Regions from separate parts of the Homo sapiens genome. Here all the other regions are linked to region 2. Evidence: fine-mapped expression QTL. A gene starts in region 2. Each other region holds a variant in brackets. All regions are shown on one strand. Distances are between the middles of the regions.

Region 1 (2,734 bases), 220 kb after region 2:
GCAAGCAGGAAGCCCAGGCACAGAGAGATGGGAACCTGCCCCAGGCCTGCAGTCCCAGCAGCTGGTGAGTCCCGGGCCCTGACGCCGCAGCCTCGCTGCTGCCCCTGGACACGCCGGGCAGGTCCTGCTCCAGGGCCTTTTCATCACAAAGAGCCCTGTGCACGCTGGCGTCCACCCTGACTGCGCCATTCAGCCTCCATCCCGTCCTCCTTTCCCATGGTATTTTTGCTCAGGCTCTTGCCTAGTGTCGGCGTGTTCCTGTCTGTCTCCCTGGCAAGAGTGCCGGCTTGCGGGGGCAGGACATGTCCCGTTGATCCCCCGCTCCCCAGTGCCTAGATCAGCCCGACGTGCAGCAGGCTTCCCAGCACTGTGGAGGGGGGCACGTCTGGCCATGAATCGCTCCAGAGTGGGGGCTGAAAATGTTTTTTGGAAAGGGTTCCAATCGCAAAGTTTACATTCCACTCAACCGTGGCAGCACAAAAGCAGCCGTGGACAGCATGCAGACACACAGGCCAGCCCTGCGCCCGCACCGTCCGATGTTGGCATCCTCAAACCAGATACCTGGCCGGCTACCTGCCGCCTCACACACCCACCACGCTCCATTTCAGACCCTCTGGGCCTTGCTGGCCTTCTCTTTGTTTGATGTGGGCTCTGAGTGATTTTGGACAGGCACCACCCAACACAGCAGGGCTGACTCTTGCCTCCTGCCCGGGTTCCTGAGGACGCAGCCACAGGGCCATGCCCAGAGCCTGCAGGGCAGTCAACACCCGGGGGCCTGGAGGAGTGGGGAGTGTGAGCGCCTCTCCTTTTCTGCTGCACAAGAGAGGCCCCGGGCGCAGGTTGCTGCATGGGGTCCCCCGGGCCAGGTGCGGGGGACACCTGGGGACTTGTCTTCCTCGGGGCCACCTCCTATGGCTTCCCTGTCCCATCAGTACCACTGCTCGGGGGACTGTTCTTCCTGTTAGGATAACGGCCCCAAGGCCCCCCCCACCCCCATTAGGCTGTGCTTTCTGGGGAGCCCAGGTCAAGGTGGTCTCGGAAAGCAGACCCTTAGGGTGGGATTTTGGAGCTGGGTCACTCACTGGCCTGAGGGCCACAGGGCCCTGGTGCTGGTGGGAAGGGGGGCGGTGAGGACCCTGCCAGGCAGCCTCATGGTGCCCTGGCCTCACTGGGCCACGGAGACAGGAGGAGCTCGGTGGGGACGCACGGTGGAAGGTCTGGGGCTGTGGAGGAGCTGGGGCTGCCGGCCTCGCAGGTGTGGTTGGGGTGGGTGGGGCTGCCGTGGGCCTGGCTCCATGGCTCTGTGCAGGTGGCAGCCGGCGCCGCGTGT[C/T]GCCACCCACACAGGAAAGGCGAGATTGGTGGCAGAGGCCGTGTCCGCGTCATCATGGGAGCTGCAGCTCTTCCCTTAGTTCCCTGCACCCACTTATTGAGGGGGGCTGGTCCTCCTGGGAAAGGACCTGGCAGCATCCCCGGGCGTGGGACACATGCCTCGCAGCAGAGTTGGGGGACACGGGGCTGTGCCCGCCCTCCCTGCACTAGAACCAGCAGCAGCAAACAGCCCCCAGCTCGGCCGCTGACCATGTCCTGCTCGGGTCTCCCGGGCTGGCCCTGGCCCGCTTAGCCTGGACTCAGGTGCCTGTGGCCGGCTGCTCGTGCCTTCCCATCCTGGGGCAACCCGGGGAGTGGCAGTGCAGCCTCGGCTGAGACGGCCGCCATCCCTGCCCTCAGGTCTCCTATGGGGAAGCAGAAACATGCCCGATGGCTCTGGGGGTGGGCAAGCACCAGCAACTGGCACAGGCCACTCCTGGCACAGGGGGAGGTGGCCTTATCAAGGGTGAGGACACAAACCCAGAGAAGGGAGGGGACATGGGGCAAAGCCACCTGCCCTGCGCCTCAAGGGACCTGTGGCCTTGGCCTGGGAAGTGCCACATGGGAAGGAGGTGTGGGCCTGCTGAGCACGGTCATGTGTGGGCCTGGCCCAAGGCTCCGCCAGCAGGTAGGGTGGGGTGGTTCTCGCCCTCTTGGGCCTAGGGCCTCACCCTGGGATGCCTCGAGTGATGTATCTGCCCGGCCCCATGGCAGGCGAGTCCGATTCCTTGGATCCGGCCTGGATCTGCCTGAGCGAGAGCCTCCTGGGAGTCCAGAGCAGCAAGTGGAGAACTCGCTCTGAGAAGCGCGTGGACTCCCTGGCGAGGCCGTGGCCCCAGCTGAACCTATGGCCTGGGTTCCACCACCCTCACCTCCCACTGCTCCTTGGTCACAGTGGGCCCAGCAGGCCACAGCACGGCATTACGGGACGTACTGCCTCCTTCCTGGCACCAGCCTCTGCCTGGTCAGTTTCCTTTTCTAGAACCTTCTTCCTGGTTCCCTGGACTCTGCTTAGACATTTGGCCCTCCCAGGACCCCCTGAGCCCTCCTGAGCCCTGGCCCCTGCTCCATGTGCCCCTCGGTCCGGCAGCCTGCAGCCCCCGCCCTCCCCTAGCCGTGCCCATGCAGTCCCAGGCCTGAGACTGGCTGCGGGGGGGGGGGGGGGTACACGTGCTCCTGGACTGAACGCTGCTACCGTAACTTCATCAGCACCCTCCAGGCGAGGACCACGTGTCCAGCCCCTGCTGTGCACACGACTGAGGGTTGTCGGTTCCCCGAGCTCAGCTGAACTCCCTCCTGCCAGCTAGCCGTCCCCATCGCCCGGACTGGGGAACAGTCCTCCTGGGGATGCCGCACTCCTCTCCAT
Region 2 (2,734 bases):
CGGTGGGGGGGGGCCCTTCCTGCCCAGCCCCAGATGGTAGAGGGGCCCCCTCCTGCACAACTCCAGAGGGTAGAGGGCCCCTCCTGCACAGCCCGAGACGGTAGAGGGGTAGCCCTGGTCTCTGGGGGCTGCACTCCTGGGCTCTGGAGCTGCCACAGCTCCTCCCTCCTAGTGCTTCCCCTTCCTTGTTTTGCTTTTTGCCCTTTCTGACATAGTGACGACTTCCGTTTCGCAGTCTGGACCTTCACCACCCCAGGGCGAGGGCACAGGCGAAGCAGCAGCACCCCCCCGGGGCCTCTCTTTATTTGGAATACAGTGTGGGGGCTCCCCCTTCCTTCTCCAGCCCGCCCAGGCCCCTGGAGCTGTCCTGGGGCCTGGGGAGTGAGGACCCGTGCCAGCAGCACAGACTCTGCCAGGCCGGGCCCGCTCAGGTGGGAGCCCAGGCCGGGTGAAGCTGTGACCCGGCCCTCACCCCAACTCGGTGACAAAAGCTATCACAGGGCTGCAGTGGGGGAGGAACAGGACGCATCTGCCAGGCACCTGACCCGCAGTGCACTTCTGGGAGCTGTGCTTATCTCCCCGGGGTCTATTTCGCCCCAAGGTTTGGCGGGTTAAAAGCTGATATGCAACCGGCACGACATGAACAGTATTTCATGATTAAAGACATCGCGTCCATGTATAATTGAGATGCTGCCGCATTTGCGGGGATTTTCAAGCGAAAACCAGGCCACGTGGAAAGGCTAAGCCCTCGCACCCCCCCGCCCCCCACTGCTGGGACCCCCGCCCCGCGGGAGACCCCGGCCCGCGGTCCCCTATGCCCGCGACCCCTGCGCTCACCCTCTCCCCTCAACCCTGAGTCCAGCCCAGTCTCGCGCGAGGCCGCAGGGAGACCCCCGCCGCTCCCTGGACCACCCCTGGGCCCACCGTACCCAGCCGCTCCCCGGCGCCCCCCGGGACGACCCCGAGCCGGCTGCCCGCCTCCCGCCGCATTCCGCACAGGCGCACCGCGCACCGAGGGCCGCACCGCCCAGCTCCGCCTGCTGCGCCAATGGCCGACGGGGTCCAAGTCGGCGGCCCAACGGAGAGGCGGGGCTAGGGGCGGGACCAGGACGCGGGACAGCAACTGTCCCGCAAGGCCCGGATTGAGGAGGCGGGAGGGACCGAAGCAGGCGGACCCAGGATTTGGCGCCGCGATCTCGAGGCTTGGCCTGGAGTAGGAGGGGAAACAAGGCGGGACTAGGGGCGAATCCGAGGGGGCGGAGCAGGGCTCGGGGTGCGGTCGGGGGCGTGGCCGGGGCGCGCTGCGGCCATCTTGGGGGCGGGCCCGGGGCGGAGACGAGCCCGAAGGGGCGGGGCCTCGGCGGCAGCAAGAAAGGCGGGACCGGGGCATCTCGGGGCGGGGCTTGGGGCTGGATCTATGAGCCGGGAGCGGGGATCCAGGAGCGAGGAGCCGGGAGCGGGGAACAGGGAGTCGGGGAGCCGGGAACCAGGGCTGGCAGCGGCCGCCATGAGCACGGTGGACCTTGCTCGCGTGGGCGCGTGCATCCTGAAGCATGCGGTGACCGGGGAGGTGAGGCCGGGTGGACGCAGGGCGGTGGGCGCGTCCCTGGCTCCTTGCCCGGGCGTCCTGGCAGCGATGGGGTGGTGGGGGCCGCGGGGCCTGGGCGGGGCTGGGGGCAACGGGGCGCGCCCATGACCCAGCCGCCCGGCAGGCCGTGGAGCTGCGGAGCCTGTGGCGGGAGCACGCGTGCGTGGTGGCCGGGCTGCGGCGCTTCGGGTGCGTGGTGTGCCGCTGGATCGCCCAGGACCTCAGCAGCCTTGCTGGGCTCCTGGACCAACACGGCGTGCGCCTGGTGGGCGTAGGGCCCGAGGCCCTGGGTCTGCAGGAGTTCCTGGACGGCGACTACTTCGCGGGAGGTGCGTCCTGTTCCCCGCCGCGGCGGCGCACATACCCTTCCCTAAGCTCAGGGCGTTCGGGGCCCTTTCCTGCCCAACCCCGGCCCTTCTGTCTGCTGGAGCGGCCTTGATATGCCCACGGGTCAGCGTCCCTCATCTCTCCCTGCCTCCCCGCCCCGCAGCTGGTGGCTGGGTGGTGCCCTGCACAGACCTGGGCCCAGCAGCAGAGTCTGGACGAGCTCTGCCCCGCCGGCTCCACCTGTTGCCTCTGGGACTCAGCCCCTCTTCTGAGGGGAGGGGGGACACTCAGCCCCGTTTTACCCCTCCCTGCCCTGCGGGGGTGGGCTGAGCACGGAGGGTGGGCAGAGGAACAGAGGGTCGGAAGGAGGAGGGCGATTCTTTGTGGTGAGTGGGTTGGGGGCTGGTTCTGCGCCTGGGGCACACACATGTGGCTTCCGCTTTCCAGAGCTCTACCTGGATGAGAGCAAGCAGCTTTACAAGGAGCTAGGCTTCAAGCGGTGAGTGGGGGCGGGAACCCTTGGGTAGCGTGGGGTGGGGGGCCCAGGGGTTCCCACCGCTCCCTGCCACCTCCTCTCCCTGCTGCCCTCTGTGGTGCTGTCCACTCGGGCCTTCCTGGGCAAGGCGGCTCTGGTGGCACTGTTGACCAGCCCTTCTGCCAGGCCTTCTCTTGGGTGCTGGGTGACTGTAATGAGCCACCTCGTCCGGGGCTTACTCTCGGTGTCCAGACCACCTCGTGGGGTGGAGCCTCGTGGCCCATCAGGGGCCATCCTAGCTTTCTGGTGTCTGTGCCACAGGCTGCTTCCTTTGCTTGGCAGTT
Region 3 (2,500 bases), 26 kb before region 2:
CGCCCTGGCAGCAGTCCTTGGCCTGTGGATGCTGTCCTGGCCCGTGGATGGTGTCCCGGCCTCCACGTACCCCTCTCAGCCCCTCCTCTTGGACTCCAGCCATGGGCCTGCGCGCGAGCCGGAACTGCTCCAGGACAGAGAACGCCGTGTGTGGCTGCAGCCCAGGCCACTTCTGCATCGTCCAGGACGGGGACCACTGCGCCGCGTGCCGCGCTTACGCCACCTCCAGCCCGGGCCAGAGGGTGCAGAAGGGAGGTAAGCGGTGGGTGGCGGACACCCCTCCCATTTCCACCCTGGTCCCCAGTGCCCCGCTGTCTGGAGCCCCAGGTTTCCTCGACGGCATGGCCTGCCCAGGGGCCCTGGTGAGACAGAACCTTGGCCAGCCCCAGGCCCACCCACTTCAGCCCTGTCCTGGAAGCAGCCCAGTGGGGAACAGGTGATGGAGGCAGGGGAAGGGGCAAGGAAGGGCCACCCCAGGTTGCTCCACCTCGGGGTTCTGGGACTTCCCAGTCCCCAGGCCTCGCTCTCGGGCCCCTGGTCTGGAGCCTGGGTTTATGGGAGTGACCATGGTTAATGCCACTGTTCAAGCTAAGTCTAGGAGGAGTAAGTGTCCAGCCCTGGCCTGCATCTGGCCGGGCAGCCCCCGCAGCACTGCAGGATGTGGACACAGAGGGACTCCCGGACTCATGAGATCCCAGCTACTCAAGGCCGGGACAGCCAGAGCCACCACCCCAGGCCCCACCTCCAAGACTCTGGACAGGGAGCCTGCCCCTCCCCGCTGGTCCTCCCATCACCCGTAGAGCACCCAGGTCTAGAAGCTCACAGACAAGCAGTCCCTAGCCGCCAGCCCCCTCCTGGCCTGGTGCCCTCAGCCCCCTCTGTCCGTCCCTCTCTTCTCAGGCACCGAGAGTCAGGACACCCTGTGTCAGAACTGCCCCCCGGGGACCTTCTCTCCCAATGGGACCCTGGAGGAATGTCAGCACCAGACCAAGTAAGTGAACCCGGGGGAGGCCCAGCTCTGTGCCCTGGGGAGGGGGCTCCACGTTGCTTCCCTGGGAGATGACCGTCTTCTCCAGCAGAAAGGCTTGAAGGTCCCACCCTGAGCGGCACCCTGGTCACATGCCTGCGTCCAGGAGAGCTGCAGGGCTGAAGCCTGTGTGCCCCAGATAACCCCTTCCATGGGCCCAGACAAAGCCTCATCAGATCTGAGCTTCCTGGAGGCTCAGGATGGGCCTTCCCAGAAGCAGGCCCAGAGGGAGGCTGCCTCCAGATCCCCTGTCCCCTGGGGCTGTGGGTGTCCCTGAATGTCAGGGCCATGGGAGGGCCCCTGGGCTTCAGGGGTTGGGGAAAGTGAACACTCTGCTCTTTGTCCACCTTCGGGAGGACACCTTCAAATGCTGACCCTGGGCCCCTAACTGACCTGAGACTTCAGAGCTTCTTGGGAGGAGCTGGGGTCCCCCAGCGGAGCCTGGGATGGA[G/T]CAGGGATGGCTGCCCCAGGGAGGGGGCGGTGGGGCCTTCCATCCTGCTCTGCCCTCCTCGTCCTCTGGCCCCAGCTCAGTCCTGTCCATCTCCAGCTCTAACCATTTTTGTCCCGACACTGGCTCTCCCTCTACCTTCTGTCCTTGTCTGCCACTGGTCTCCCGTGCTCTGGGGTCTCTGCACTGCTGGCTGCCTCCCGCTTCTCTCCCCTCTCCCTCTGCCGTCCTGTCTCCTTTGCCCAGTCTCTCCTTGTTTCTCTTCTCCTCCTTCCTTCTCTCCACCTCCCCATAGCCGAGCTTGGAAAAGTCAGACAGACCTCTGAGGTCTCATCCTGGAGCTGCCACCAGCCCAGCCTCCCTGGGACCTGTCTTCACTGCCTGGGGCCCTGGGAGCCAGGGAGGCTCCCTGAGGCTGAGTGAACACTGGGCGCTGCACCTGCCTCTCCCACGTCCTCGGCCCCACTCCCGCAGGTGCAGCTGGCTGGTGACGAAGGCCGGAGCTGGGACCAGCAGCTCCCACTGGGTATGGTGGTTTCTCTCAGGGAGCCTCGTCATCGTCATTGTTTGCTCCACAGTTGGCCTAATCATATGTGTGAAAAGAAGAAAGCCAAGGGGTGAGCACACGGCGGCCCCATCAGGGCTCATGTCCCCAGCCGTCACCTCTTGGAGCTCTGTCACCCCAAGCCTGGGAGGTGGCCCCAGAGCTTTTCCAGGATCCGCGGCTCCTCCCAGGGCAGCCACTGCAGGCTGGGGCAGGTGGGCTTTCTGCTGTGGCCAGAGCCCAGGTGTCAGCTGGCCTCCCTGGGGGAAGGGAAGGTGGGACCCCTGACCGTGGAGCCCTCAGCCACCCCTGCCCACGCACTCTATGACCCTGTGCTCCTGCCTGCCCCCTGTGGGATGTGGGGAGCAGGACAGGCCCTGCTCAGCTGGGAGAAGCTCTGGGCTGAGGGTCAACAGCCGCCCTGCTGGGGACAAGGCTTTGTCCTCATTGAGGAGAGTAAGGCCATTCATTCATTCATTCA
Region 4 (2,734 bases), 140 kb before region 2:
TCTGCTGGAGCTGGTGGAGGAAGATGCCAAGGAGATAAGAGGCTTCCCCTCCCCTCCGCTCCCCGCCTCCCACACTGTCTGGTGACACTGGAGGCAGCCAAGGTGGCCACTGATCCCCACTGTGACCACTGAGACCACTGGAACTGCCCTTCCCCCATGGCCTTCTCCCTCCAGGAGAATGGACCCGATCGGTGTCCCCTTCGTCCCCTGACACGTTGGTCTGGGGAGGCGGGGTCACGGTGCCCCAACACCCCTGACTTGGGGAGCCCATGGTGTCTGCCTGCCTGGGTGTCTGATCCTAGAGACTCCTTCAGCGAGGTGCAGCCTCAGAGGGGATTCAGGCACCATGGGAGGCCGGGGAGGGGCAAGTCAGAGGGCGGAGGCCACTGTCCTATCTCCTGCTTGGTTGGTGGGGACAGAAGCCAGCCTGTTGGTCTCCCCTAGGACCCTGGGCTGATGGGAGAAGTCGTCTCTAAATTGGCCCCCACTATGTTCCCTCTGCACTTAAGCCAGGGCCACATTCTCCGCACTGCCCTAGGGGAGGGTCTGGGGTCTGGAAAGGATGAGGGAGGCAGGTGTGCACTGGGCAAGTGGGTGCCTGTGGCTGTGCTGAGGGTCCCCACAGGCCCCTTCCCTGAGGCTGAACGCCTGATGGCCCTGCCCTCTGGGAGGTGAGAGAGCTGAGCCTGCAGCCTCGTCTGGACGAGGCAGGGAGGGAGACTGGCGCCTGCTTGGCATGTCCCCAGGGAAACCAGGGCAGTGAGAGAAGAGGCTGGAACAGGCCTGGGCAGTGGTCGGGGAACTGGTGGGAGTGTCTGCTGGACAGTGTGTAGAAGACTCGGGGCTCGGGGCTTGGTCTGGTGGCCTTGGCCTCAGATCCCTGAGCATGAGGCTGGGGTCAGGCCTGATGTCCAGCCTCTGGCAGAGCTGGCTGTGGGTGGGGAACAGCTGGGGGTACGGGGGAGGGTGGGGACAGGTTGGCAGCGGCCCCTCCTGTGGGTGACCAGGTAGGGACCCTGCCCAGAGGGGGGAGGCAGAGGAGCTGGTGGGCAGGAGAGACCCCCTACAGACCCTCCTAGGTGGTGGTGGGGGCCTGGCAGCCCGGTTCCCGAGGCCCTCACTGCTGCTGCTGGAGTTCAGGTGACATAATCTGCAC[G/A]GCACACACGGATTGCCGTAAGCCGCAGCAGCCAGGTCTGACAATACGAGTTGTAATTGGATTTTAATTTTTAATGTCCACAACACATGAAGAGCTTCGGACCAATTTGTGTATCTTCTGTTACTCTGCGCCTAATAGGACCGCTTCATTAGCTGCTGTCGCACCCACAGTGCCGTCTGTCCGGGAACGGAGGGAGCCTGGCCCGAGCCCCATGCCAGAGCCCCAAGAGCTGCCTGCCACCTGCTCCAGTGATGGGCACGCCGACGGGAGGGGGGCTGAGGACCAGCCCAGAGGGTCCCTCCCGCTGCCTGGCCGGGCTTCCACCCCCGTCCTGCTTCCCTGTCCACTGCAGTCCTAGCCAGGGTGCTGCCCCTGGCTGCCAGGAAGGGGTGGCCATTGGGGGCTTGGACATCAGTGTACCCACTGAAGGCCCAGCTTCCCCGCTGCTGCCCACTCTGGGGCTGTCACAGGCCCCACTGGGACTCTTGTCTCCAATGGCCCCTGGGCACAAGTGGCCCTGGATTCTGGGGTTCCATTGCCACTCACCCCCCTATTCACTTGTGGCTCAGCCCTGCCTGCGATTTGGGGGTTGAGGCTGGAGTTAAGACCCTGTAGCCAGGTCTCCCGGGGCTGGGGGTGGGGTGGCCCTTGACAGACTGGGGCCCCAGGCAGAAGCAGGAGCTGTGTGCCTCAGGCCCCTCCCTCCCCCCAGCTGCAGGGGTCCCAGGAGGCGGGGCAGCTCCGACTCCGACCGCCCTCCGGATTATTCTTAGGTCTGTTGTGTAACAGGCGCACATTGGAGGCAGAGGGAGGAAGGGCTCCTGGAGATGTCTCCGGCGGCAGCAGCTAGCCAGCCGGGAGAACAGCTTTTGTCCTTTCCACTCGCCCAGCACAAAGGGACAAAGGAGGCTGCCTCGGCTGCCCAGCCCAGCTGAGAGCTGGCCAACCTGGGCCCATGCAGAGGGGTTGGGCTGGCAGAGGGGTTGGGGCTGGCAGAGGGGTCGGGGCCTGCAGAGGGGTCAGAGCCGGCAGGAATGTGATCATCCCTTCACTGCCTCATGCTCCCCAGGGCTGGGCTGAGTCTGGGCTGGGGCTCCTTCCTCCTCCTGCCCCTGCAGCCCCGTGTGTGTGTGCACACCTCTGTGCCCATGCACAAGCACCTTTCCGGGGCCAGCTTCAGGCAGCACGGTGGCCTGGTGGAGGTGGAGGTGGCAGAGGGTACCCACCCCAGCCTCAGAGCCGCCCTCAGGGCTCCTCTTCCTGCCTTCCTCTCCCACCCCCTCATGTGCTCCCAGCAGCCTTTGGGTGTCGATTCCGGGGTCTCCACCCCCGCAGATGGGAGCAGGCTCCTCATGCCTGCCTTCTGAGCTCCCAGTGCAGATCAGACTCTGTGCGTGAGGCTCCAGGAGGAGCCAGGCTTGATGGCAGAAACGAGCAACCTGAGGGGCTTCCAGGGCTAGGGTGGCTGCAGGGTGGGGCCCCAAGTCTGTGGGGGGAGGCCCATTTGCTCACCTCACCCGCATCCTCCAGGACCACTCTGCCTTCAGCTCCTTCTCCCGGATCGCTGGACCTGTGTTC

What was found.
Region 1: its variant is fine-mapped to the expression of PRXL2B in whole blood (TOPMed, PIP above 0.99).
Region 3: its variant is fine-mapped to the expression of PRXL2B in whole blood (INTERVAL, PIP 0.90).
Region 4: its variant is fine-mapped to the expression of PRXL2B in nucleus accumbens (GTEx, PIP 0.95).

Annotation. Positions count from the first base shown.
Region 1 is chr1:2,807,736-2,810,469 of GRCh38, forward strand. No RefSeq gene overlaps it. Among named protein-coding and RNA genes, the nearest start is that of TTC34, 7.4 kb to the left of the region's middle. The variant C/T (reference allele first, on the strand shown) is at 1,331.
Region 2 is chr1:2,585,379-2,588,112 of GRCh38, forward strand. It overlaps PRXL2B (peroxiredoxin like 2B), which reads left to right and starts at 1,399. Exons shown (of 7, transcript NM_152371.5): 1 at 1,399-1,570; 2 at 1,713-1,917; 3 at 2,363-2,414. The coding sequence starts at 1,508. RefSeq lists an enhancer at 2,207-2,734.
Region 3 is chr1:2,559,724-2,562,223 of GRCh38, forward strand. TNFRSF14 (TNF receptor superfamily member 14) reads left to right here. Exons shown (of 8, transcript NM_003820.4): 4 at 100-255; 5 at 901-991; 6 at 1,950-2,092. Among named protein-coding and RNA genes, the nearest start is that of TNFRSF14-AS1, 4.0 kb to the left of the region's middle. The variant G/T (reference allele first, on the strand shown) is at 1,479.
Region 4 is chr1:2,444,617-2,447,350 of GRCh38, forward strand. It overlaps a transcript of PLCH2 not described here. Among named protein-coding and RNA genes, the nearest start is that of PLCH2, 30 kb to the right of the region's middle. RefSeq lists enhancers at 975-1,809, 2,645-2,734. The variant G/A (reference allele first, on the strand shown) is at 1,157.